2 linked regions of the Homo sapiens genome follow. The protein of the gene in region 1 interacts with the protein of each later gene in a biochemical or structural test. Each region holds a gene or a part of one and is shown in the gene's direction. Other genes may lie near its edges.

Region 1 (3,655 bases):
CTGACCACAGATTAATATGTTTTATACTTTGGGACAGATGATTCTAAATCATAACATTTGAGTCCTAGTTTTATGAACTACCCAAGGACACTGTTCCACAGATATATCTGGATGAAGTTTGGCAGTTAACTATTATAGACTCTTCCTAGTACTGGAAAAAAGCTTTAAAATATATTTAATTTAAGTTTAGAGTCAAGACAGCCTGAGGCTAGTGAGTAACATAGATATTTTAGGAATTAGTGTCTTTAAGACTAACATAAGTCAAACGTTTGTACACTATTTTTGACATGTACTACTTATTATTGCTGATTGAGATTGTAATACTGTATTATTGTCTTCATTTTGCTTATTTAACACTGAATTTTTTGGTATTAGGTACTGTACTGGGGTTGGGAAGAAGACTTAATTAAAAGTTACTAAAAGGTTCTTCTTTCAGGGAGTTTACAATGTAAATATAGGTGACAACAGGCTATAGTACTATGTGGTAAATTGTAATTTTGTCTAGGACAGAAGTCAGCAACTATAGCCTTTGGACCAAATTCAGCTGCTGCTTGTACACCACCACACCCCTTCTTTTATGCAGCTTTTGTGCTACTATGGCAGAGTGAGTAGTTAGAGACTTTATGGCCCTCTACAAAGCCTAAAATATTTACTATTGGCCTTTTACAGGAAAGATTTGTTAATCCCTGATCTAGAGGAATTGAAGTCTTTGCAGAGGAGATTTTAAATTTAGGCCTTTGGAAATGTGAGTAAGATTTCATTCCAAGATTGCCAGGAAGAGTAGAGAAAAAGCATTCTAGGCTTAGAAAGCAGCAACAACAAAGAATGGTACTAGACGGATAGCATGTTTGGGAAACTAGGTAGTGTTCTGGGCTAGACATAGGGAAATGACTGGAAACATAGGATTGGGCCAGATTGGTAAAGTCTTGCAAAACATGAAGATTTTGAATTCTAGTCAGCAGAGATCATTCACAATTTTTAAGGGAAGGGGATATGATATGTTTGAGAAAGAAAACTGATGAGAGTATTATTGATGATGAGTTGGAAGGAAGAGAGACTGCAGACAGAAAATACTATTTTTTTCGCTGAGGATGGCGAGGGTGAAAAGAAAATACATTTAAGAATAAAAAAGAGGCTGGGCTTGGTGGCTCATGCCTGTAATCCCAGCACTTTGGGAGGTCAAGGCGGGAGGATTGCTCGCTCACAGGAGTTTGAGACCAGCTGGGGCAACAAAGTGAGATCCTGTCTCTACAAAAAAATTTTAAAAAATTAGCCAGACATGATGGCACATGCCTGTAGTCCCAGCTACTTTGGAGGTTGAGGTGGGAAGATTGCTTGAGCCCAGGAGTTGAGGCTGCAGTAAGCTGGGATCACGCCATTGCACTCCAGCCTGGGCAACAGAGCGAGACCTTGTTTTAAAACAATAAATAAATTAGAAAAAAAACAGTATTCTCAGTACTATAGGACCTGATTAAGTTTGTGGGACTGAAAATGATTTATGCTTTTCAAATATGGAATCTAGCTGTAAATGTTGCTGTTATCTTTTGGTTGGGGTAGGGGAGGCAGCTGCAGTTACTATGGTGGTAGTGGAATGAGTTTGGAGTCCAACATGTCTAACTGGTATGTTTGGATAGAAATTTCCGAAAGACATTGAGAAATACAGTTAAAGCTGTATTTCTAGCATTACCTATAATAATTTTTAATTTACTTTTGATGTGATGTTTTTGGATTTGCCGTATTCTTAAGTGATTTTTACACATTAAAGGTCTAAGAAAGTATTTTGATGAAGTACATTTCTGATAGTATGTGTAATTAAATCATTTGAAAATACAGTTGCATGGACAGAAATTTGGAGTTTTGTGAAATAAATGAAACCCACCTTAACTGCCTCTATATCAGTTTACTAATATTTTCATTGAAAATAAATATATTCCTTATAATTAAATTCTACTTTGTGGAACAAGAATAGAACCTGAAGGCATGGAGGAGAGTCATTATAAAGTTATATATTAGGTAATGTTTTTGCTGTCCAAAATGATGAGCATTTATAATTCCCAAGAAAAGCTGCATTTTAAGGAAGAATATTGATAAAAGAATATATAGACACATAGCTCTGAAATAACTAACACAATTAAAGTACCAGTGGGATAAGAATTTATACATCTTGGAGCCCCATCTGTTCCCCAATCACCCTGTTGCTTCTTTAAGTACATTAATACTTTCAGCAAGCTGCTTTTTTGGTTCACCTGTCATGTAAATTATTTAATTGGTGAAGAAAATTTCTTAACACTTTTTTTCCTTGTCCTGCTTTTTTGTTGGGACTAAATTCAAAATAAGTTGAGTATGTGCCATAGAGTTAAGTGTGGTATTTTATTTTGGTGTTATGGCTGTAGATATGCCAGCTTCTTTTTGACTGAATATTTATGAGCTTTGATGATTTGCATACTTACAGTAATATACTTCAATTAGTTACTTGGAAGCCTTTTTGGATAAAATTAATGGATAAAAGGAAACTATTGAAAATATGTGTAGATGATATAATAGTCATTTGAATAGGTGATTATTGAACCAAATACGGGTGAAACAGCAGCAAAACAACAGCTTGTTGGAGACTTCGATTGTATTTTTTTCATTCTGGGTTCCTTAAACATTCCAGTATTTTCCATCTATAAGCAGTTGCTTTTTTTTTTTTTTTTAATGATTCTGTAACCTTCAACAGGACCGAGTTATTTTTAATAGCATAGTAAAGGCCATAAATACCTTTTCTTGTAGTGGCAGATAGTGTATATAATTACTTCAGAGATACTTATTTAGATACTGTTAGAATTTTATTTAGTAACTTACCAATTTTTATGCCATAGATTTTTATTTTAATTTTTATTGTGGCTATTGATTAAAGACTGGTAAAATTGAAAATACTTAAGCTTATTACTATGTTATTACATGTGATTATATTTAGTGTATTAAAATACACAATTACCATTGAGGTTTGAAACTACATTTATTTTTAGTTAGTTGTCTGAGAGTGATTTATCCAAACAAAATGGGTAAGCTTTAAGGAGACCTTCTTTGCAGAGGTTTTTTTTGGGTGGGCTTTCCTGCTATAGTCAGATTTGATCCTATTTACTACTTTGTAAATTTTGGAAAACCAAGAGGTTCTTCTAATCACAAAGGTATTAGTGGAATTTTCAAATGCTGTCTGAGATTGTGCCTGTGTCTGCGATGGCAGTACTTTTTGTCTCTTGCAGTTTTTCTTGTTTTGAAGTTGGATTAAATTTGAGGAAGAATCAGTGTTAGTATGACGTTTAGTCAGCAAGCAGCTTTTATTTAGTTAGCTCCAATTATTTTGTTGGTATGTCTCTCCACAGGTAGATGACACACTCCTTGTGTGCTTGATGTCAGTGGAGCCTAGTACAATTCTTGATAATAGTAGATCTTAAATAAATATGGTATAAATGTAGTCCTTTTTATTTTGCCTCTGTGTGATATAGTTTTGCTTACTTTTATAATAAGACAAGTTGCTCATGATAAAAAAGGTTAACATTTAAAATATGGATTTGATTTTTCTAATTTCAGGTTTATCTCGGGGTTTGGGGATCTCATTTGACATTTTATTGTCAGACTAAAAGTTGACAGTCACAGCTTTAATTCTCAT
Region 2 (3,060 bases), on another chromosome or scaffold:
GCAGTGAGCCGAGATTGCACTACTGCACTCCAGTCTGGCGGACAGAGCAAGACTCTGCCTTAAAACAAACAAACAAAAATGAATAGATAGGATAAAAAATTAAAGATAATATGTAAAAAAAAAAGATAATATATAAAAAAATGAGTGGATAAACAAAATGTGGGCTATGTGTACAGTGAAATATTATCTGGGCCAGGCGTGGTGACTGTAATACCAACACTTTGGGAAGCGAGGCAAGAGGATTGCTTGAGCCCAGGAGTTCAAGACCAACATAGTGAAACCCCATCTCTACAAAACGTTTTTAAAAAATTAGCCAGGTGTGGTGGCATATCCCTGTAATCCCAGCTACATGGGGGGCTGAAGTGGGCGGATCACTTGAGCCTGGGAGGTCAAGGTTGCAGTGAGCTGTGATCGTGCCACTGCACCCTAGCCTGGGCAATGGAGTGAGACCCTGTCTCAAAAGAAGGTTAAAAAAAATAATTTCTGCTTGGGGGAATGGAAGAATTTTGGAAATAGATAGCTGTGATGGTCACACAATGTGGATGTGCTTAATGCCACTGAATTGTATACTCAAAAATGATTAAGATGGCAAATTTTTTGTGTGTGTATACACACACACACACACACACACACACACGTCTTTTTTTTTTTTTTTTTGAGATGGAGTCTTGCTTTGTCCCCCAGGTTGGAGTGCAGTGGCGTGATCTCGGCTCACTGCAACTGCCTCCCAGGTTCAAGTGATTTTCCTGCCTCAGCCTCTCGGGTCACTGGGACTATAGGCACCCGCCACCATGCCCCGCTAATTTTTTTTTTAATTTTTTTTAATTTTTAGTAGAGGTGGGGTTTCACCATGTTGGCCAGGCTGGTCTCGAACTCCTGACCTCAAATGACCCACCCACCTCGGCCTCCCAAAGTGCTGGGATTGCAGGCATGAGCCACCACGCCCAGCCTTGTTATGTATATGTTACCATAATAAAAAAATAGGAGGGTGTGCTGGGGATGGTGGCATGGAGAGCGTCTCTGAGGGGTTCCCCATGACCCTCTGCTTGGGCCCTGCCAGGGTGGATGAGGTGAACTGGTCTCACTGGAACCAGAACTTGGGCATCATCAACGAGGACCCGGGCAAGAATGAGACCTACCAGTATTATGGCTTCTCGCATACCGTGGGCCGCCTCCGCAGGGGTGAGTGGAGGGGCGGGTGCGGAGGGGAGCCCCAGTCCATTCTCATCACGAATTTGCTTTGAGCAGTCCTGCTTCTTTCCGGGACTCAGTGTCCGTGTCTACAGAATGAGAGAGTGTGCCCCTGAGCTTCCTCTGCTGCTTGTGAATGCCTGGGGCACCTCACCTACGTGGCTTCATCCTGGCCCTCCCTACTGTTGACATAAGCTGGCCTGGGGAGGGAGGACGAGCTCCTCAGCCATCCCTGTGTGGAGAAAACCTTCCTGTTTGTCCAGTAAGCCATGAGCACGCGAGACGCAGCTGGAGAGGACACAGGCACTCAGGGCATTCGGCTCCAGGCTTGAATCCTGGTTCCTCCATTCTCTCCTGGGGAGGCACCTTGACCTCTCTTGAGCCCCAGTTTCCACCTCTGTAAAATGAGCATAGTCACATCCCCCCTTCAGAACACTGTGGAGTGCCCAGTACACAGTAGGCACTCAATATACGCACGCTCTCTCTCCACCAACCCCCACCCCTCCCTCTGATGTGCTCTCGGTGCAGATCGCTGGTCCTCGGTGGTACCCCGCGTGGTGGAACTGAACAAGAACTCGAACCCGGACGAGGTGGTGGTGCCTCTGGACAGCATGGGGAACCCCCGCTGCGATGGCCACCAGCAGGGTTACCCCCGCAAGTGGAGGACTGATGACGCCCCGCTCTAGGGACTGCAGCCCAGCCCCAGCTTCTCTGCCCACTCATTTCTAGTCCAGCCGCATTTCAGCAGTGCCTTCTGGGGTGTCCCCCCACACCCTGCTTTGGCCCCAGAGGCGAGGGACCAGTGGAGGTGCCAGGGAGGCCCCAGGACCCTGTGGTCCCCTGGCTCTGCCTCCCCACCCTGGGGTGGGGGCTCCCGGCCACCTGTCTTGCTCCTATGGAGTCACATAAGCCAACGCCAGAGCCCCTCCACCTCAGGCCCCAGCCCCTGCCTCTCCATTATTTATTTGCTCTGCTCTCAGGAAGCGACGTGACCCCTGCCCCAGCTGGAACCTGGCAGAGGCCTTAGGACCCCGTTCCAAGTGCACTGCCCGGCCAAGCCCCAGCCTCAGCCTGCGCCTGAGCTGCATGCGCCACCATTTTTGGCAGCGTGGCAGCTTTGCAAGGGGCTGGGGCCCTCGGCGTGGGGCCATGCCTTCTGTGTGTTCTGTAGTGTCTGGGATTTGCCGGTGCTCAATAAATGTTTATTCATTGACGGTGGAGATGGCAGGATGATGGCAGGGGTGGGAGGGATGGTAACAGGCATGAGACTGCAGCGAGGGAGATGGGAGAGCTAGGAAATGCCTGGGGGGAGCCAGGGGCAGGGGTGAGAGTGAGGGCAGAAGTCCTGACCGGGAGGCATTTAGAGTGTTGGTGGTTGGGGGCTGGACTGGGTGGTTGTGATGGTGGTGGTGGTGGCCTGAGAGGTGGCTGAGGTTGGTGTGGCTGTGGGGAAGGTGGGGGTGGAGGGAGGAGAGCAGAGTGATGCTGGTGGGGGTAATAATGCTGGCCAGGGAGAGTCATGTTGGCAGGGCGAGAGTGATGCTGGTGGGGGTGACAGTAGTGCTGGCTGGGGGATAATGATCCCCATGGAGACAGTACATTTGGGCAGGGGAGAGTAACGCTGGCCAGGGGTTGACAGTGCAGGTGCGGGGACTCTGGTGCTCATCAGGGGACAATTATACTGGGAGGGCTGTCCTGCTAGGCGGGAGGATGGTTGCCAGGCAGCACGGAGCAGGCGTGGCAGTGGGTGAGCCTGGAGTGTCAGCAGGGTGCTGGGTGTGCATGCGGGTCGCTGTGGTGAGGACCATGGTGGCAGGGGCGATTGGCAGTGCTTGTGGAGCTGGGATGGGTGGGGGTCATGGTGCTCCT

What was found. The genes of interacting proteins can lie anywhere in the genome.
Region 2: the proteins of CETN3 (region 1) and TRPV4 interact in a test that uses a peptide from one of them, tested with the Homo sapiens proteins (one large-scale study listed by BioGRID).

Annotation. Positions count from the first base shown.
Region 1 is NC_000005.10:90,399,630-90,403,284, reverse strand, and holds part of CETN3 (centrin-3), read left to right. Parts: intron 1-3,655. UniProt on the Homo sapiens protein: Plays a fundamental role in microtubule-organizing center structure and function. As a component of the TREX-2 complex, involved in the export of mRNAs to the cytoplasm through the nuclear pores.
Region 2 is NC_000012.12:109,782,438-109,785,497, reverse strand, and holds the end of TRPV4 (transient receptor potential cation channel subfamily V member 4), read left to right. Parts: intron 1-1,060; coding exon 1,061-1,182; intron 1,183-1,719; coding exon 1,720-1,877; 3' UTR 1,878-2,409; downstream 2,410-3,060. UniProt on the Homo sapiens protein: Non-selective calcium permeant cation channel involved in osmotic sensitivity and mechanosensitivity. Activation by exposure to hypotonicity within the physiological range exhibits an outward rectification.